Homo sapiens: one gene and its partners. The protein of the gene in region 2 interacts with the protein of the main gene of each other region in a biochemical or structural test. Each region holds a gene or a part of one and is shown on either strand. Other genes may lie near its edges.

Region 1 (7,111 bases), on a different chromosome or scaffold from region 2:
CAGAATATATTATTATCCCAGCAGAAACAAAATTAAGAGAGCTGAAGGTCCATCACAGGATACAGGATCTCTGTGTGTTGTGACAGTAGGAATGGCAGAGTGTCAGTGTGGAGTTAAGGAAGTGGGAGGGAGTTCTTTTGTCTTTTATTTCAGTTTTTTTTTGGAAGTACCTTATGAGGACGTCAGCTATGAGGAAGGATGACAGGAGTTTGGGGATTGGATGTTTCAGGAGAGAGCAGAGGGTTTGAAATCATTTACAATTTACTATGTGGGCTGAAGTCGTGTGGAACTTACAGCAGAAGGTTCTCCTGATCTTTCTGAGTCTTCCACATCTGTTGTTTTAAATGTGTTAAGAAGTTTTTCATTCACTTTGTTCAGGAGCTCCCTAAGTACTAACATAGATCATACGAGCATTGGAAATATTAGCTGACAGTTTCAGTAACATCACAGGACATTTCCTTTGGGATGAGCAACTGAGGTGTACAAGGCTGCATAAGTTTCCCTGAGAAACTCACCTGTAAATTATTATTGTTATTATTTAGAATTTAGAGTATAGTTGTTCTCTAATTATGTAGCAGACACGATTGTACTTGAAACATTGTGATGGTAATTCAACAAAAAATACTTATTTTAAGATAACGTACCCTAAGTATATACTGACTTATATAAGTAAAGAATTATTTCTTTCATCTTCTAGTTTAGGTGAAAAATCTAGTCTTGCTTTTTTGTATGTAACAATGTATGGCTATATAATATGTTATTCTTTCTTTTTAGAAAGTATTGATCCAGGGTTTTATTTACATTATGTTTGTTTATTTAGTTTGCAAGTGTGTGACGTTGAAGCCTGGTTGTATATAAAGATATGTATTCTGTTAGTGTACATGGTTATTGTTTTCAGGAGGGTAAAAAATAATAACAATCATTGACTTCACTTTGAAACACTGTTACTTTCTACTGTCAAAGAAACCTTGAATATGTAGACTGAGGAGGAATTGTTTTAAAGCAAGGAAAAAAATTCCAGAGGAAGAGCTAGTTTGGTTTCATAGTACATCATCTACTTATCTACCACACACACAAACACACACACATACTTTTTTTTTTTTTTTTTTTTTCCTCAAATGAGCTGTGTTACTCTTTAGGGATGCTTGATGCCATTAATATGATTGTTCATTTTGGTTATTACCTTATTAGAAAGGCAACTGATATTTTACTCTTAAATGTACTTAAATGGAGTAATAGCATTTATAAGACTCCTGGCATATAGTTTCACTTTTCAGAATCATCTTTTGGCTAAAGAAATTTAACAGTGAGATTTTAAGTAGATAGCTCACTAAAGAAGTAAGGTTAGTGCCTTGGTTTGAAAGTAGCATTACTTTGCTTGTAATTGTTTCACTTTAATTGTATTATACATTGTTTTCTTAATAGTTGTGATGTCATTTTTCTCTTTATTACTAATTTTAGATACTCCACACATTCCACATAGATTGAGAAAGCCGAAAGTAATTAGGTGCTTGATCAATCCAACTCACCTGGACCAACAAACTCCTTTTAAACTAATGATGGTCTTTGGGGCTTAGGTGTATATATTTTTATTCCAATTTTATAATTGGCTATATTATATGTCTACTGATTTCTGATTTAATGATGAAGTATAGAATTTGTCATTTTACTGTGTGTTTTTTTTTTTTTTTTTTTGACAGAATCTCACTCTCTTGCCCAGGCTGGAGTGCAGTAGCACAATTACAGCTCACTGCAGTCTTGGCCTCCAGGCTTAAGTGATCCTCTCACCTCAGCCCCTTGAGTAGCTGGGTCTACAGGTATGGGTGACCATGCCTGGCTAATTTTTAAATTTTTTGTAGAGATGGTATTTTGCCATATTGCCCAGGCTGGTCTGGAACTCCTGGGATCAAGAGGTCCTCCTACCTCGGCCTCCCAAAGTGCTGGGATTTAAGGAATCCCACTGGGTGTGAGCCACTGGGCCTGGCCTATTAAGTGATTCTTAAGTAATATAATTTTAGTACTCTAATTTTATTTTTATTATTTTATTTTTTGAGATAAGGCCCAGACTACAAGTACAGTACATAATCATAGCTCACTGCAGCCTCAAAGTCTTGGCTAATGTGATCCTCCTGCCACAGCGTCCCAAGTGTTTGGGACTACAAGTGTGTGCCACCACATCTGACTAATTTTTATAATTTTTTTATACAGACAATGTCTCACTGTGTTGCCCAGGCTGTTATTGATTTCCTGGCCTCAAGCAATCCTCCCACCTCAGCCTTCCAAAGTGCTGGGATTGCAGGCATGAGCCACTGTGCCCTGCCTGTACTTTTAAAATTTAAATTTCTTTTCAAGTTTAATAATGTAACAGGATTATATTTTGGAACTGTATATTATGTATTACAGATGTGGAATTTATATGTAGTAGATTATGTTTAACTATTTTTTAAATATATTTTTAAGAGCTTCCTTATCCTTGTATAGCCTCCAGATGTGAAGTATTGTTTTATATTTTGTGTTATAGACTGCAAAAAATGAGGCCTCATCACATATCTCACAATCCCAAAGAGAAACTCTGCTTTACATTTTTCTTTTTTTCTTTACTTTTTCTTTTTTTTTTTTTTTGAGATGGAGTCTCGCTCTGTTGCCCAGGCTGGAGTGCAGTGGTGCAATCTCGGCTCACTGCAAACTCTGCCTCCTGGGTTCACAGCATTCTCCTGCCTCAGCCTTCCAAGTAGCTGGGACTACAGGCGCCTGCCACCATGCACTGCTATTTTTTTGTATTTTTAGTAGAGATGGGGTTTCACCGTGTTATCCAGGATGGTCTCGATCTCCTGACCTCGTAATCCGCCCGCCTTGGCCTCCCAAGAGAAACTCTGCTTTATATTTTTCTATCAATTCACAGACTTATAAACCTTTTTAAAACAGGTATGTACTATTTGACAGTTTTCACAAGAATATCCTGTGAGACTGTGAAGTTAAAACCATTAAGCCTTGTAGTCCATGGGCTGGGAAGAGTTGGATGATTGGCTCATTTGATAAATACATGAATTCATTTGGGCCTTTAGATTCAGAATTGAGATCAATCTGAAAGAGTAAAAGTACACTGTGTATGGTGGTGGTGGTGGTGGGGGTTACTGGAATAAGGTTTAAAAACTTGCCCCAGAAGACCATACTTCATGACTGTGCTGTTTATTTTCACCAGATTCCTATCATAGCTTTTATGGGAGATTTATAACTTTATTTTCTAATGATTATTACCTTTTTTTGTGAGATGATTGTATATAAGTCTTCACTAATTTATTCATGAATAACTGTTACTGACCTTACTAGAGAATGCAGAACATTTGTAAGTCAATGAATGTATATTTGTGACTTATCTAAGATTACTTTGAGATTTAAAGACAATATATGTAACATACATACTGCTTTGTAAATACGTGCATAATAAATGCTGTTGTTTACTAAAGCTTAAAGCTCTATAGACTAGCATACTGTCTTATTAACAAAAGAAATTTATATTTATTATCTTATTCTTATATCAATATATAATTAAAATTATAATATTAAAAAAAGCAATATGGCTGTAAGGCCCAGGTGACATCTTTTTCCTGCCCTCTGTATCAGGGCAAATCTTAGAAGTAGTTATGTTTTGAAACAGTTTCTCAAATCTCAAACTCTCAGCATTCTTTAAGGACTAATCTAATTATTACTAAATGAAAGACACATTTGCTGATAAAAGTAAAGCATATTTTCATTGCTTTTTATTATTTTTGACAGAAAGATGATTTAACTCCTTTTCAATTACAAGTGCAATGTCAATGGTATTTCACTTCATTTTTTAAAAAGGAAATAAAATAGATAAAGGTGCAACATTTGGGAACACAATGATTCAAAATTCTGGTTCTCAAGACCAAAATTTAAAGCTTATTTGCAGATCATCGCTTGATACATGAGAAGGAAGGTGCTTGGAAATGACGTAGGGAGATTGCAATTTGCTGTCATGCTAACATCTAGAGGTTGTTTGCTAAATTGTTCCATCTGATGATAGCTAATATAACATAATTGGTTGTGCATATGCAGAAATGTCATTTTGAGATGAGAAGGCAAATTTACTGGGAAACAATTGAGTTATCAGTTTGGCAAAACCAATCACAAGTCTTTTTTAGATATTCCCACTACCTACCACTTATCTGTCATGGAAGTCCATGCCCCATTATAAAACCTTTAGAAAACCACAATCTTTAATTATTTATAAATCTTTTAAAGAAGAGTGTAATGGATAATTATATGAAACTTTGTGTGTGTGTGTGTGTGTGTGTGTGTGTGTGTGTGTGTATTAGACTGGAATCATTGAATAAGCTCTCAAACTATACCAAATAACTAGTATAATGATCAATATTGCAGGGCTGGACTCAGACTGTTAGAACTTGGTAGAATGCAGTCTTATAGGTGTTGATGGTAACATGAAGTTTCCTTCCTTGCTTTGTTTTTATATTTGTTTGCTTTGATTTATGTATCAGGGTAATCTTTGACCTCTGACCTTGCGCCATCACCTTGTTTAAGGTGAAAAATCTAAACCCAAATGTGGCAATAGAGGTAAAAATATAGGGTGTTTTTTAATAATAAAAGATACTACTCATCTTTTAATTTCCCCAGCATTACTTTAGAGTGATTTTGAAAATGAGACTTCAATTTCTTAAATCTTTCCTTATTGTTGGAATATGTTGGAACAAAACAAGACAAGTGCTTCCTTCCTTCCTTGTTTCCTTCCTTCCTTTTCTTTTCTTCTCTCTTTTCTTTTCTTTCTCCCCTTTCTTCCTTTTCTCTTTTCTTTTCTCCTTCCTTCCTTCCTTCTTTCCTTCCTTCCTTCCTTCCTTCCTTCCTTCCTTCCTTCCTTCCTTCCTTCCCTCCTTCCTTCCTACCTTCCTTCCTCTCTTTCTCTCTCTCTCTCTCTCTTTCTCAGGGTCTCACTTTAGTCACTCAGGCTGGAGTGCAGTGGCACCGTCTGAGCTCACTGCAGCCTCAACTTCCCAAGCTCAGGTGATTCTCCCACCTCAGCCTCCCGAGTAGCTGAGACTACAGATATGTGCCACCACGCCTGGATGATTTTCTGTATTTTTAGTAGAGACAGAGTTTTGCCATGTTGCCAGGATGGTCTTGAACTCCTGTGCTCAAGTGATGACCCACCTGCTTCGGCCTTCCAAAGTGCTAGGATTATAGGTATGAGCCACTGCGCTCAGCCTCATTTCCCTCTTTCTATTGATAGAATTTAGATACAAAGAAAATGGTGATTTTCCTTACAACTATTCAAAACATTTTTTAATCTATAAGAATATGAGATATTTCCCACAGGAATTCTTTTAATACTGTCAACCAAATATTTTTGTGCCATTAAAAACCAGTTGTGATAGCACCACTTGAAGTTATTTGGCAGCAGAGAAATTCACGTTGTTCTGTTTCTTACTTTTTCTGGTCTCATCTAGAAAAACAGATCATTAAATATACAGAGTGTTCAATTATATGGCCACTATGGCTGTTATGGAATATCATATAATTTAAATAGTTAAGAACTGGTACAAAAACAATGCATATTCAGACAAATTTCGGCTGTCTAAATCTACAGTTTCCTGTGTAGAAGTTTCTTCCAAAGTTATGAAAGGTTTTATTTGGCTTAAGCCAGACAATTGATATAGTAGCTTAGCAATGTTGGCAAACATGAAACTTAGATTTTAAAATATGCAATCACACAGGAATTTTGTTCAACTTATTTTGGTGAAAAGGAAAAAAATATACACCCTTCACTAGTTCATTGGCATCTATTCTGACTAAACCACTGATTGATGAGGAACTAGTGAATGTATTGCTTGTTTTTAGGCACAATTTCAGGAATTTCTGAATGCTTCTCTCCTTAATTGTCAGCAGCCACTTTTCCCCGCATATATTATAAAACAGTTGAAAAGTATTAATTTAGTAATGAAAATATGAATGAAAAGTATGAATGTGCATAATATATGGTGTTGTTGATAATTAGTTTGATTTTTTCCTACACTCAGTGTTCTTACAGTTAGGTGATTCTCTCAACCTGAGCAATTGCTCAGTGTAGGGTGAAAAGATTAAAGAGATTGCTTATTTGCAGTTATGTAAATATCCACAGTAATCATGAACATTTTTATTTTTCAGTTTGTTTGATTCCATAGCAATTCTGGTTAGGAGTGGCATGTTATACAGGCTTTTGCAAAAGTATTGACATTATTTCACACAATGTCTTGTACAGTCAGAGAGATTGGGGAGGAGAGGACTGAAGGGGCAGTTAAAAACTAGAAATAAAGAGTCAAGTGGTAAATTGAAAAGGCCAGAAAAGTGGAACATTAGATTAAAGGGTCACCACTTGTGTTACGGCAAGTATTTCAGCTACTGTGAGCAGGTGAACATTGAGATCTAATGGTTAGCACCATCTGAAAATATATTCAGAAGCTTCCTAATCAAATTGTACATATGGTACATATTTTTGGTGTCATTGGGGTCATAATAAGTGTTTTTCTTTTACATTTTTGTAAATTACTATTTGATATTTTCATAGTTCTGACTGTTTGAATTACCTGTCTCACGTTGAGTTCCCTTTGTAACACTGCAGGTGATCCTACAAGATTCTTTCTCCCTCCCCAGCATTATTAAGGTATAATTTACTAATAAAAATTATATATACTATGATATATAATGTTTTGGTACATGTATACATTGTGCAGTGATTAAATCAAGCTAATTAACATGTCCATCATCTCACAGACTTATCTTTTCTTGTGTGTGTGGTGAGAACATTTAAAATCTACAATCAGGCAATATATTTCCTGCTTTGAAAAAATCAATTTTGGGGTACTAGGCTTAGTACCTGGGTGACAAAATAATCTGTACAGCCCCCCCATGACACAAGTTTACCTATGTAACAAAACCGTACATGTACCCCAGAAACTAAAATAAAAGTTAAAAAAATCTATTTTTTACTTAAAAAATTATCTACAGGTATGTAGATTTGCTATAATCATACTCTTCAGTTCATAGCACATTTTTTTCATCAGTCCAAGTAAGGATCCTATTGCGTTATGTTTTATTT
Region 2 (7,111 bases):
GTGTAGAGGTTTAGCTATTTCTTTCATAAAGAAGGGGCCTTGAGACTTGTGAGTCTTATCGAAGTCTATTTCTTCAAAGGTGCCAGATGAACTGAAGGATAATGGAAACAATAGCGAGTTTATCTTCTCAGTCACCTGTGAGTCTTCCTTTGAGAGTGGGACTTGCAGAGTGGCTTGGTAGGGTAGAGCTCTTTGTGACTATGCTATTTGGGCAACAGTGAGAGATGGATTGTTTTCAGTACATCAGTCATAAGAGGATATGAGTTCCAACTTTATTTTACCTTAGTCTTGGCAAATAAGTGTGGATTGTGTCTGTATTTCTCAAACTTGTTTAAGGTAGAGCTGGACTGGGTGTTAACAGTGTTAGTTCAGTACAGAGACATGAGCAAATCACTCACTTCCTCTTCAAGATAACACTTTAAAGGTGACACCATTTACAGAAGAAGGCAGTGATTTAAATCAGTTATACTAGCATAGTTTAGAATACTTACACTACCTAGATGGAGTAGATACATTCTAGAAATATTTACCTGTTAAGGACATTTCTTTAGATTTTATTCCATCTTTCCATTAGTTTTCTGATGAAGAGATTATAGTAAACCTTTAAAAATTATATTTGATCAAACTTACAGATTGAGGATAAACCTTTAAAAATTACAGTTGGTCACACTTACAGATTGAGGGTAAAAACATTCCTGACAAAGCTAGGCGAAGAAAGTTGGACTTTTGATGTTCCCTTCTTTTAAAGTTAACATCTGGCACTTGAATAGACTTGGTTATTACTGATGGGGACAGGCATCCATTTGGAAGTAGCTTCCCTCTCTCTTTCCCAGGTTAGGCTGTCTTACTGCTGTAAATGGGGAGAGACGAGAAAGCTGTGGGTGGAAGAAAGTTTGTTTCATAGCCTGGCGCAGTGGCTCACGCCTGTAATCCCAGCACTTTGGGAGGCTGAGGCGGGCGGATCACTTGAGGTCAGGAGTTCAAGACCAGCCTGGCCAACATGGTGAAACCACATCTCTACTAAAAATACAAAAACTAGCCCGGCAGGGTGGCAGGTGCCTGTAATCCCAGCTACTTGGGAGGCTGAGGCAGGAGAATCGCTTGAACCCGGGAGGTGGAGGTTGCAATGAGCCGAGATCATGCCACTGTGCTCCAGTCTGGGCGACAGAGCGAGACTCCGTCTGAAAAAAAAAAAAAAAAAGGTTTGTTTCATGCATCTGTCCTCACTGGTCAGTGGAAGAAAGTTTGTTTCCTGCGTTTGTCCTCATATTTATAGTTTTCTCGTCCACCTACAAGTTGATTGTGACGTTATGAATAGAAGATGAATGGATAATGTGTTTTTGTCAGACCTTGCTGTAAGGATGGACCTGGTACTGAAATACCGTGATTGTATGAACATTTGTGTGGGGCAATGCTGTGTTCAGTGCCTGGGGAATGTGGATATCAGTGTGTTTGTATGATATGGGTGCTAGTATGGGAGAGAAGGAAAACGTGTGAGGTTTTTGACCATTTATGTCACTCTGTAAGCTCTTCTCTGGCTACTTTGGTGCTATAGTAGCAGAGTTGAGTAGTTACAACAGAGACCATGTGATCTGCAAAGCAGAAAATATTTACTATCTGGGCTTTTACAGAAGTTTGCTGACCCTTTTTCTACATAACCAACTGCAGTTATTCACAACAAGAAAGATTAACGTTAATTCTATAATATTATTCAATACCTATTCAACTTTCTCTATTTGTCTCCCAAATATCTTTTATAGTTGATTAAGAAAAATTTTGGACAGAGTAAAATTAAAGTTCACTCAGCACATCATTATGTCTCTTTAGTCTCTATTTTTTCATTCTTTAATTATTCATATGTATAGTTTACATTCACTAAAATTCCGCCATTTTAGTGTAACATTCTCTGAGTTTTGACAGGTGTATACATTCATATATCCACTGCTGCAAACAGGACAGTCCCTTCATCCTCCAGAATTCTTCTGAGCCCTTTTGTACTCAACCGGTTCTCTACCCCCAGACTCTGGAAATTGCTGATCTGTTTTCTGTCTCCATGGTTTTTTGCCTTTTCAAGAATGTTGTAAAAATGGAATCACACGGAATGTAGCCTTTTTATTCATTTGCCCAATGACTAATGATATTAAGTATCTTTTCATCTGATTATTTGTCATTCTTTGATGTCAATTCAAAATCTTTTGCTTAAAAAATGAGTTTTTGTATATACTTTGGAATCAAATACATGATTTGCAGATATTTTCTCCTAGTCTGTTTTTACTTGTCTTAATAATGTCTTTTTTTGTTTGTTTGTTTCGAGATGGAGTTTGGCTCTGTCACCTAGGCTGGAGTACAGTGGTGAGATCTTGGCTCACTGCAACGTCTGCCTCCTGGGTTCAAGTGATTCTCCTGCCTTAACCTCCCGAGTAGCTGGGATTACAGGCACACACCACCACACCCAGCTAATTTTTGTATTTTAGTAGAGATGGGGCTTTTCCATGTTGGCCAGGCTGATCTTGAACTCCTAACCTCAAGTGATCTGCCTGCCTCGGCCTCCCAAAGTGCTGGGATTACAGGCGCGAGCCACTGTGTCTGGCCTTCTTGTCTTAATAATGTCTTTTGAAGAGCAGAAGTTCTTAATTTTTATGATATCCAGTGTTTTTTTGTTTTTTTGTTTTTTCCCTGAGTGGATCATGCTTTTGGTATAATAGTTTAGAAATCTTTGCCTAACTTAAGAGCTCAAAGACTTTCCCCTATATTTCCTCCTACAAGTTATTATTTTTTTTTTTAGAGATGGAGTCTCACTCTGTCATCCAGGCTGGCGTGAGTGAGATCTTGTTCACTGGAATCTCCGCCTCCCGGGTTCAAGTGATTCTCCTGCCTCAGCCTCCTGAGTAGCTGGGATTACAGGCACCCACCACCATGCCTAATTTTTGTATTTTTACTAGTGATGGGGTTTCACCATGTTGACCAGGGTGGTCTGAACTCCTGACCTCAAGTGAGCCACCCACCGCAGCCTCCCAAAGTGCTGGGATTACAGGCGTGAGCTATTGTGCCCGGCTCGCCTAGAAGTTTTATCATTTAAAATTTTATATTTACATTTATTATCTGCTTTGATTTAATTTTCCTAAATGGTGCAAGGTATGCATTGAGTTTATTTTTTTGTGGATGGATTTACAATTTTTCCAGCAACAGTTTTTGAAAAGACTGTCCTTTCTCTGTTGATTACCTTTGTGCCTTTTTTTTTTTGCAAGTTGATCATAAATGTGTGGTTTTGTTTCTGGATTCTCTCTCCTATTCCATTGATCTGTGTCTTTCATTTCTCTATCACCTCACTGTTGATTACTGTCACCTTAGAGTAAGTTTTAAAATCAGGTAGTGTGAGTTATCTTATTATTTTTCAGAATTGTTTTTTGGGTATTTTAGTTGCATTGCCTTTTGTGCATATTTTAGATTCATCTTGCTGTTATCCACAAGTCCTGCTGGGTTTTTCTTTTTCTTTTTTTTCTTTTTTAAGATGAGGTCTCAGCCGGGTGTGGTGGCTCACGCCTGTAATCCTAGCACTTTGGAGGCTGAGGCGGGTGGATCACCTGAGATCAGGAGTTCGAGACCAGCCTGGCTGACATGGCAAAACCCCGTCTCTACTAAAAAATACAAAAAATAGCTGGGCGTGGTGGTGGGCGCCTGTAATCCCAGCTACTTGGGAGGCTGAGACAGGAGAATTGCTTTAGCCCGGGAGATGGAGGTTACAGTGAGCCGACATTGCGCCACTTTACTCCAGCCTGGGTGATAGAACGAGAGTCCGTCTTAAAAAAACAAAAAAAGATAGGGTCTCACTCAGTTGTCCAGTGTGGAATGCAGTGGTAGGATAACCACTCACTGCAGCCTTGATCTCCTGGGCCCAAGCGATTCTCCCACGTCAGCCTCCCAAGTAGTTGGGATCACAGTCATGCACTACCTGGCTAATTTTTTTATTTTTGTAGAGACAGAGTCTCTCTATGTTGCCCAGGCTGGCCTCAAACTCCCGGGATGAAGTGATCCTCCCACTGTGGCCTCCCAAAGTGTAGGGATTACAGGCATGACCCACCATGCCCAGCCTGCTGTGGTTTTTGATTGGCATTGTGTTGAAGCTGGAAATCAGTTAGGGGGCAATTGACATTTTAATAATGAGCCATGAACATGGTATATCTATTTAGACCTTAGATTTTTGATTAGTGTTTTGTAGTTTTTAGCAATTGGATCTTGCATGTGTTTTGTAATCTTATACATGTATTTCATGTATTCTGGTGTTGTTGTGAATGATACTTCTCAATTTCCAGTTGCTCATTGCTGGTATATAGAAAGATCATTTTATATTATTTGCTGACCTTGGATCCTACACCCTTGCTAAACTCATTTTTAGTAATAGAAGCTTTTTTTGTAGATTTTTGGAATTTTCTGCATAGACATTATTGTCATTGGCAAATAAGGGCAGTTTGATTTCTTCGTTTTCACTTTGTATACTTTCATTTCCTTTTTTTTTTTTTGAGATAGAGACTCGCTCTGTCACCCAGGCTGGAGTGCAGTGGTGCGATCTCAGCTCACTGCAACCTGTGGCCCCCCAGGTTCAAGTGATTCTCGTGCCTCAGCCTCCTAAGTAGCTGGGATTACAGGTGCATGTTGTCATGCCCGGCTAATTTTTGTATTTTTTTTTTTTTAAGTGGAGACTGGGTTTCACCATGTTGGCCAGGCTGGTCTCAAACTCCTGACCACAAGTGATCCGCCAGCCTCAGCCTCCCAAAGTGCTAGGATTACAGGCGTGAGCTACAGCGCTGGGCGTGATTTCTTTTTGTTACTTTGCTGAACTATCTAGGACCCTCAGTGTAATGTGTAATAGGAGTTTTACAAGTGGACATCCTTTCCTTTTTCCTGATGTTAGAGGGGAAAACACTGAGTGTTTGACCATTAATATGATGGTAGCCATAGGTGTTTGTTTTTGTAGATGTCTTTTATCAAGTTGAGGAAATTGTCTTCTATGTTTAGTTTGCTGAGAGTTTTTATCATGAATAGATATTGAATGTTGTCAAAGGTTTTTCTGTATTTATTGACATAATCATATGTTTTTTCTTCTTTAGTCTGGTGTAATACGTTGAAATAGCTTTGCATTCTTGTGATAATACTCATTTAGTCGTGATGTATTATTTTTTACATGTCTTTGGGTTCCATTTGCTACTGAATCTTTTTTTATTTCTTCCATTTGTTTCCCGTTATGTTCATTTTAAAAATAGGTTCTTGATCATATGTATAATATTCATGATAGTTGTTGAGTCCTTATCTGTTAAATGTCAGATGTCTCCTTGGGGGTAAAGTTATTTCAAACACAAGAACCATTGCTTTAAAGAGTATCATACTTTGTTTTGGCAAGTTAAGTTGCCAAACTTATGTGTGTAAGTTGCTTGTTACACCCCATTACTAAGGCATGAAGCTCCTGTAGTTTTCATTGAAGAATTGGGCTCTCCTTGAGGACTCTATTCTGGCAGTTGAGAACACAAATGTCTCCCAGCCCTGTGTGAACTTTGGAGATCATTTAGCTTACAGTTCCTGGGTGATTCTTTGCGTGCCCTCATGTATTTTTACAATATGCATGCTTGGCTTACTACTGGGTGTGAGACTCATGGGGCCTCTATGCTGATTTCTGGAGCTCCTTTTTCATACAGCTCCCTCCTCTTCTCTCGTACTCTGCAATTTTCAAACTCCTTAGCCTTCCCAAGCTATGTTTGTTTTCTAAACTTGACAAGGCTGTCATGTTGTGCTTGATCCTCCTCATTGCACCATGGTCTAGAAGGTACCTCCAGCCAGAAAGCTGGGGCGATTTTAGGGCTTATCTCATTTGTTCCCTTCTCTTTGGGACTGCAGTTCTGTGCTACCTGTTGTTCAGGCTCTAAAGGATGCTGCCTCATGCATTTTGTCCACTTTTCTAGTAGTTAGGGAGGATGCCAGGATAAATCTGGATCCAGTTACTCCGTCATGGTTAGCAGCTGAAGTCCTTTGGGTGAGTATGCTTTGTTGGTGGTTCTTAAAATTTCATTACAGGATTCTCAAAATCTTTGGGGGTATAAATAACAAAGAAGTATTTGTTGACTATCTTCTGACAGTAGCTCAGCCATTGCTTTGTGGGAAATACAAAACAATGTAGGTATCTTTTAGTTGAAGAGGCACATGGTACATACCTAAGATTAATCAAAGAAATGAATTGCTATGGTGATGAACAGAAAGAGAAGGATCACTATAATCTATTATTTTCTGTCCCCCCGTGGGGGAGTCTTCCAGTGAAAAGCAGAAAACCTGCTAGACAGATTCTAAAAGATCTGTAACACTTGTGATCTGGTGTTTTCATGTAGAAATGCTTGCTTTTGCGTTTTTGTTTCTTAGCATATATGCTTTATGTCGCAAGTTGTAGTGAGTCAGTGGGTAGAGTGCTGGCTCTTTCAGGTGCATTTGCTATTTATTTACTATGCAGCTTTAGGTAAGTTATTTGTCTCTGAAATCTAATCTTCTCTTTTCTCTTGGCAAATGGTTATATGACATACCTTGTAGGGTTGTTTGTTAATTTTTTCAAGTATCTTTTGTTTGTCAGGCACGGTTCTAGGTAATGGGAATTCAGTGACATCTGTAGTTGCTGCCGTTAATCTATATCCTATTGAGGGAAGTAGAAAATAAACGAGTGAACAAACAATTGCAGTCATGTCTGGTGGTGATGATTCTAGGAAGGATATGAAGAGTATTAGCAGAGATTGGGGAGGTCAGACAAGGCCTTACTGAGGAGGTGAGATTTGAACAGACCTGAAGAAAGTCAAGGGAGCAAGTCACATGAAGATTCAGAGGAAGTATGGAAGGAACATCAAGTGCAAAGGACCTGAGATGGGAGAATGAACAGGGAGCCTGGTGTGGCTGGAATGGGTGAGAAAGAGCGTGAGGAGATAAGGTTTGTATGTGTAGCCAGAGACCAGATCAAATAGGCTCTTAGGTATGGTGGGAAACAGCTGAAGGATTTGAGCAAGGCATGACAAGGTTGATTTAGGCTTTAAAAACTTTACTCTTGGCATAGGGAGCAGTAGTGGAAACGGAGAGACTAGTT
Region 3 (7,049 bases), on a different chromosome or scaffold from region 2:
GGAAAAGGCTGCCAAATTACGATCTCTAAAGTTAATTCTGGGAGGAGGAACAGTGGTCACGCCTGTAATCCCAGAACTTTGGGAGGCTGAGGCAGGAGGATCACTTAAGGCCAGGAGTTCAAGACTAGCCTGTACGATGCTGTCTCTACAAAAAAATTTAAAAATTAGCCTCGCATGGTGGTGCACGCCTTTAGTCCTAGCTACTCAGGAGGCTGAGACAGGAGGATTGCTTGAGCCCAGGAGTTCAAGGCTGCAGTGTATTATCATGGCACCACTTTGCTCTAGCTGGGTAACAGAGTGATATATATTATATAAATATATATATATAATATAATATAATATAATCCTGATCATGTCCCTCCTTCCCAAAAATCTTCAGCCACATTGAGTACAAACTCTCAGGCAGGATTTGAGCTCAACCTCCTTTTTGAAGATCCTCCATTCCTCTGCCTCCTTCCTGGGTCTCAGGCCAGGGGTTTTCAAACCCGTCCACAGAGCTTGTGTTCACTGGGGGAGCAGGGAGCAGCTGAGCACCTGTGGGTAGACAAGGCATGAGGCTCTAGCACCTGCTCCCATCATAGCAGCTCTGATTTGATTTCACACATTTCAGGTAAGATTTCATTAAAAAAAAAAGGTTCTGTTGCTTAAAAACAAACATTTGAAATGAACTATCTTAGTCCAACAGGATGGCACATCTCAGTCAAGGACTCTCAAATCTGTTTGCTTCTCTTTTATTTACTTCAACTGATGTTTATTGATCACTTGCTATGTCCCAGGCACTGGGGATAAGACAGACTGCCCCTCCCTAGAAGGCTTACAGTTCAGAGGAGTGATGATGAATATTTGAATAAATTAAGGAACAATATCTTTCCCTTTCTTTCCCCTCACACGTCTTTTGTGGTTAATCTCAGATGCCATGGACTTTATAAATCTTTTGATCTGCCTTTCCTACTGACCAGAAGAACTCCCTTCTCCATATAAAATTTTGTGTGTGGAGGATGTTGGTTGTTTTTCCTGTTCATTTTCCATTCTCTCACCTTCTGGTGGTAGTGGTTGGAACATTCTTTGGGGAACAACCCTCCCCCACCTTCTCCCTCCCAGTTCACTGGGTTCTGGTTAGTCTCCAGGAGTGGGCAAGTGACCCCAAGCCTGGCCAGCTGGCACCTAGAACCTCCTTAGCCACAGCAATTGGTTCAGATCTGGCCACCGTCTGACTCCAATGATTGGTTTGGGATGGATGAATGATCACAAATGTCTCACAGCGAATCCCAGACGTGTAGGAGCCTCAGGAAACAGATGCTCTCTTTTCAGCTGAATTTAAGCCTGAAAAGATATAGACCCAGAATTTTGGGCAGCAATTTCGTTACACTGTGGAGAGTGAAGCCAACGTGGAGGAAAGTAGAGCCAAGTGATGGGAAGAGACTGGATATTCCTGACACTCAATGAGTGGGTTAAGCCACATCTAAAGCTTGACCCCTGGCTCATTTGTTTGTATTGGCTCAGTTCCAGGAGCCGATGCATTTCCCCTTTTGCTTTAGTACTTTTCAGTCAGCTTTTCCAAAAGAATGTTGAAATGATTTGCCATAGCAAAACATTTCTAATCTGGACTCTCTAAGAGCTCAAGACTGGTATGTCTCTGGGTCCAGCCAGCCTGCCATGTAGGAGTCTCACCCTTTCTCAAGTTCTGTGTTCTGAAGCCTTCAGGAGATCTGTTTATGTGTGATCAGCAAGTTAATCCTTTGCCATTTCCTTCTCTTCCACTGGGCTTTCCCCAGAGGGGGCAAGAAGGGAACCCTGTTTTTTGTTTGTTTGTTTGTTTGTTTGAGACAGAGTCTCGCTCTGTCGCCCAGGCTGGAGTGCAGTGGCACGATCTCGGCTCAGTGCAAGCTCCGCCTCCCAGGTTCAGGGCATTCTCCTGCCTCAGCCTCCTGAGTAGCTGGGACTACAGGCGCCCGCCACCATGCCCGGCTAATTTTTTTGTATATTTAGTAGAGACGGGTTTTCACCGTGTTAGCCAGGATGGTTTCGATCTCCTGACCTCGTGATCTGCCCCCCTTGGTCTCCCAAAGTGCTGGGATTACAGGCGTGAGCCACCGCGCCTAGCGGGAACCCTGTTTTTATGGAAGCAGGGAGTGGTAAGTCCAGCCGGGCAAGTCCAGCCATCCAGCAAAGCAGCTGATTATATCTATATCTATCTATATCTATATCTATATCTATATCTATATCTATATCTATATCTATATCTATATCTATATCTATCTATATCTATATCTATCTATAGATAGATAATATTGGCCAGGCGTGGGCCACGCCTGAAATCCCAGCACTTTGGGAGACCAAGGCGGGTGTATCGCCTGAGGTCAAGAGTTTGAGACCAGCCTTACCAACATGGTGTAACCCCATCTCTACTAAAAATACAAAAATTAGCCAGATATGGTGGCAGACGCCTGTAATCCCAGCTACTCCGGAGGCTGAGGCAGGAGAATCGATTGAACCCAGGAGGCAGAGGTTGCAGTGAGTCGAGATCATGCCATTGCACTCCAGCCTGGGTGACAGAGTGAGACTCTGTCTTAAAAAAAAAAAATTAAAATAAATAAATAAATAAATAAATAAAAATAAAAAATTATACATATTTGTAATGCTTTTTAAGAGATGGGGTCCCACTATGTTGCCCAGGCTGGACTTGAACTTTCGGGCTCAAGCAATCCTCCCACCTTAGCCTCCCGAGTAGCTGGGACTACAGGTGTGCACCACCATGCCAGGCCAATTTGTGTGTGTGTGTGCGTGTGTGTGTGTGTTTTGTTGAGACAGGGTTTCATGTTGCCCAGGCTGGTCTCCAACTCCTGAGCTCAAGAGCGATCAGTCCCCCTTGGCCTCCCAAAGTGCTAGGATTACAGGCTTGAGCCACTGCACCCAGCCATCTTTTTTTTAGACGTAGTTTCGCTCTTGTTTCCAAGGGTGGAGTGCAATGGTGGGGTCTCAGCTCACCACAACCTCTGCTTCCCGGGTTTAAGCGATTCTCCTGCCTCAGCCTCTCAAGTAGTTGGGATTACCGGCATGTGCCACCATGGCCGGCTAAATTTTGTATTTTTAGTAGAGATGGGGTTTCTCCATGTTGGTCAGGCTGGTCTCGAACTCCCAACCTCAGGTGATCCACCCTCCTAGGCCTCCCAAAGTGCTGCGATTACAGGCGTGAGCCACCGCGCGCAGCTGCTCTTTATGACTGCAAATATGGGGCACTTGCCTTGTGCCAGGCACTATGCTGGGCATTTTACCCTCATTCTTATAGGTAATCCTCATAGCAACTTGAGGAGTGGAGATAATTACAGTATTCCCACTGAACAAATGAGAAAACTGAAGCTCAGAAAGGCCAGTGACTGGACCAAGTTAATGATTGCACGGTTAGTTAGTGACAGAGCTGGGGTTTCACGACGTGTTTAAGCACCGCCCCATCAGTTGTGGCCACTAGGCTTAGGCGGATAGCCTCGCAGAGGAGCCTAGGTGGGGAGGGGGACGAAGAAGGAACATTTGGGACTGTGGGATGTTGAAATGGTCTCTTCGGAGGCTGCCGGGATTGAAACTGGGCAAGGTCCCAGGGCCCGAGTAGAGCCAGAGCGTGCTACGCGGCGATCCCTGAGCCACGGGGTTTTCAGCGCCCGGGAAGCCAGGCTTGCCAGGTTGGGGCGGCTGGCGGGGCAGGGCTTCTCGGTCCGTCCCAAGTCCAGGTAGGCGCTCGCGACCCGCGCGGGCAGGGAGAACGCGCTCCCACAGTGCTCGCGAGGTGCAGTGCGCCCCTGGGGGCTCCGGGGCCGTCGGGCCAGGTCGGCTTGGCGCCCAGGGACTGGCCGGACGGGCTGGGCCTTTGGCGGGGGTGGAAGAGGAGGTTGCCGCGCCCTGCCCGGCCCAGGTGTCGTCTCCGGGGGCGGGGTTTGGAGCCCCGCAGCGGGAGATTCCCGGCCGGACTGGCGGACGAGCGTCGAGAGACAGAAGCCGAGGAGAGGAGGCTAAGCCGGGCGGCGCGGGGAGCGCACTGAGCAGGCAAAGTCGCAGGGCCGCCAGCATGTTCTCCCGAAACCACCGGAGCCGGGTCACCGTGGCCAGGGGCTCCGCCCTGGAGATGGAGTTCAAACGCGGCCGCTTCCGACTCAGCCTCTTCAGCGACCTGCCCGAGGTGAGAGACTCGCGTCCCTGCCTTCCCCTTCCGCGGCTCCCGGGGGCAGCCCCAGCCACCTCGGCCTCCTTCCCTCGCCCGCGTGCACGCCGAGGGGCGGAGACGCACGGTCTGGGTACAAACCCGACGGAGTTGTTGACTTAAAAAGTAAGGTGTGGACGGTCTGCATTTTCATCGGATCCATGCTGCCCATTCCGCGGCCTGGTTAGGATTATCTGCCTGAGCCTGGAAAAAGCCCGGGTTGGTCTCAATTTGTAGGGCCCCAGCTCGACTCCTAAAATGTGCCTGAACCCCAAAATGTCTTGGGCATCCCCGGGCCAAGGGCGGTGGGCAGCTAGGCGGGCCCCAAGCGCTCGGACTCTTGGCCTGGGCTCCCGCTTGTTCCCCAGTCGCCAGCCCCATCCCACAACCTGTCGCAGCCATCTGGGCCAGCCTCTGTCATCAACCCCGACTTTAGGCCGGGGCCGCTCGCTTCCCCGAAGCCCAATTCAAAGGCTCCTCTATGCCCCTGCAGGGCTTTTAACTCCTTGGGGTTACTTCCCACACGCAAAATTTCCGCCTCCTTTTCTGGGGCCTAAGAGGAGTCCAGCCCCTAGGCTGAGCGTTTCCCCCGTCCGCCGTCCACGCGTTAACCTGTTGGATCCCCACCTGTAACGCCCTAAGGGCTAGGGCGGGGCTGAAGGTGTGTGGTTGAGCGGGGACTGAGAGGGCGAATAGCTACCCCGAAGACTCTTCTGTCCCCAAGGTCAGACTCACACTCGCCCAAGGAGAGCCCAGTTCCAAGCCTTCCCTTCCGGGTCTGGAAAGGGTTAAGTGAGGTGGGCCTTCCTTCCGCCCCCTCTACCTCCCGGCTGGGATTCCAGGCCTGGCTTCTGCCCTTTCCCTCCAGCCTGCCCAGAACAAAGAGGCTCTTTCACACCCTTGTCCCGGCGTCCCGGGCCTTCTCTGACTCAGAAGCTAGTGGACCTGGGGAGAGGGGGCCTTTGTCGCGTCCCCTTGCCCCCAAGCGACTGGGCCCGAGGAACCCGCGTGGGGCCAGCGTGGGGGAGTAAGGGGCGAGGCCCGGGACCAGGGGGAGGGGCCTGTGAGCTGGGGCCGCCCCTGGGATTAGCCCGGCCTTCGGGGACAGCTCGGAGGAGCTGGGGCGGAGCCGCAGGGCCTGGCGGCCGCCGAGTGAAGTGTGACTCCGTGGGCCTGGCGTGGAGGCGGGGGCGCTAGGCTGCAGCTGGCTCGGAATCGGGGCTGGTTTCCTGTCTGGAAGGGAAGGGGCCTGCAGAAGGGAGCGGGGACAGCAGCAGACAGGCACACCCCTGCCTTCCTCTCTCCCTCTCCTCCCTTCTCTGGAAAAGCGAGGTAATTGTGAGCCCAGGGTGGAGCGGGCTGGATGGGGGCCCTGAGTTGGAAGGGGTGGCCCTAGGGCTGGGCTGCTTTGCCAACTCACCCCTTTGTCCCATTCCCTGGGCTCACTCTCCCCTGAGGTCCTCACCTGTGTGGCTCTTTTTCCCAACTTTCTCAAACTAAGCTGGAACCCCTCTCGGGAAGCTCCAACCTCCTGCAAACCCCATGACTCTAGAACCTGCATGAGGCGTCGTTTCCCTGCCCCCTTCCAGTTGTGCCTGCCCCTCACTGCCCTCTCCGCACACAGATTCCCTGTCCACCAGGCCAGGGATGTGGGCGGGGGCTGGGGAGCGGCCAGAGTCGGAATGAAAGGGCCTTTTTCTTCCACAGCTGGGAGAACAGCTGCCACCAAAGCGAGACTGGACACTCTGTGCCTAGAGCCCCCTCTGCAGCTGGCCTTTCCTCCTGGGACCCCACTTATCCTCACTTCGCTTTCTTTTTCTTCCCTGCCTGGCTCCCGGCAGGGCCCCGGAGCAGCAGTGGGCGAGGAAAATTTGTCACAGCAGCCAGAGGGGTTTAACAGGAGTGCAGAGGGATAAGGGCAGCTTCTGCCCTCTGCCCAAGAGCTGGCCACCTCTTTAAAGACTGAGGGAACAGTGGGAGGAGGAACTGTGGGACAGTGTGGTACCTATCTGTCCCCCCTCTGGAGGGGTTGACAAGGGAAAGGGCACCGGGGGGCACAGAGATGCAGGACAGATTGCACATCCTGGAGGACCTGAATATGCTCTACATTCGGCAGATGGCACTCAGCCTGGAGGTAATCCCCCGACCCTTGGAGTACACACCTCCTTCACTTGCATCCCAGCCCCAATCTCTGCCCTGCCCATTCCTGCTACAGCATGGTGGGGAGAGCCAGGCCTGCTTAAAGTGGGAAGAGGGACAGGTGGTTCCCTATGCCTTGTGTTGGGTGCAGTGTGTGGACCCAGGCTCAGTTCTGCCCATCATAGTCTTATGTTTGCAGCAGGGTCTTTACACCTATTTCAGGAAGCTCTGTGGGTGAGTGTAAATGTCTGTTCTGGGGACAAGGGTTCCTTTTAGGCATGGGAAGAAGAGAGGAGTTCAATGTGAGAGAGGTTTACAGAAAGGATGTAGCCTTGCTAGAGAAGAGAAGGACTCTGGGCTATGAGTAAGGATTCTGCTGGCCCTTGAGACAGCAAGGTGCTGTTTATTCGTGTATTTGTTTTTTTCAATTCTTTACAGAGACGAGGTCTCACTATATTGCCCAGGCTGGTCCTGGCTCAAGTGATCTCCCTACCTCGACCTCCCAAAATGCCGAGATTACAGGCGTGAGCCACTGCACCTTGCGCTATGTATTATTAAACACATGTAAATTTTATGTACTATCTGCCAAGCTCTTTTCGACCATAGGATACCTCAGTGAATAAGACAAGAAAGTTCCATTGTAGTGGGAGAACAGAAATATACATACGAACACATAAATAATATCACATAAAGAAATTATGATGAAAATGGGGATGTA

Evidence for each region.
Region 1: the proteins of AKAP13 (region 2) and PRKD1 form a complex in vitro, tested with the Homo sapiens proteins (one study listed by BioGRID).
Region 3: the proteins of AKAP13 (region 2) and RTKN form a complex in vitro, tested with the Homo sapiens proteins (one study listed by BioGRID).

The regions. Positions count from the first base shown.
Region 1 is NC_000014.9:29,917,812-29,924,922, reverse strand, and holds part of PRKD1 (serine/threonine-protein kinase D1), read left to right. Parts: intron 1-7,111.
Region 2 is NC_000015.10:85,383,533-85,390,643, forward strand, and holds part of AKAP13 (A-kinase anchor protein 13), read left to right. Parts: intron 1-143; exon of another isoform or gene 144-203; intron 204-530; exon of another isoform or gene 531-578; intron 579-674; exon of another isoform or gene 675-865; intron 866-7,111. UniProt on the Homo sapiens protein: Scaffold protein that plays an important role in assembling signaling complexes downstream of several types of G protein-coupled receptors.
Region 3 is NC_000002.12:74,438,828-74,445,876, reverse strand, and holds the start of RTKN (rhotekin), read left to right. Parts: upstream 1-3,939; 5' UTR 3,940-4,060; coding exon 4,061-4,171; intron 4,172-5,293; exon of another isoform or gene 5,294-6,254; coding exon of another isoform or gene 6,255-6,326; intron 6,327-7,049. UniProt on the Homo sapiens protein: Mediates Rho signaling to activate NF-kappa-B and may confer increased resistance to apoptosis to cells in gastric tumorigenesis. May play a novel role in the organization of septin structures.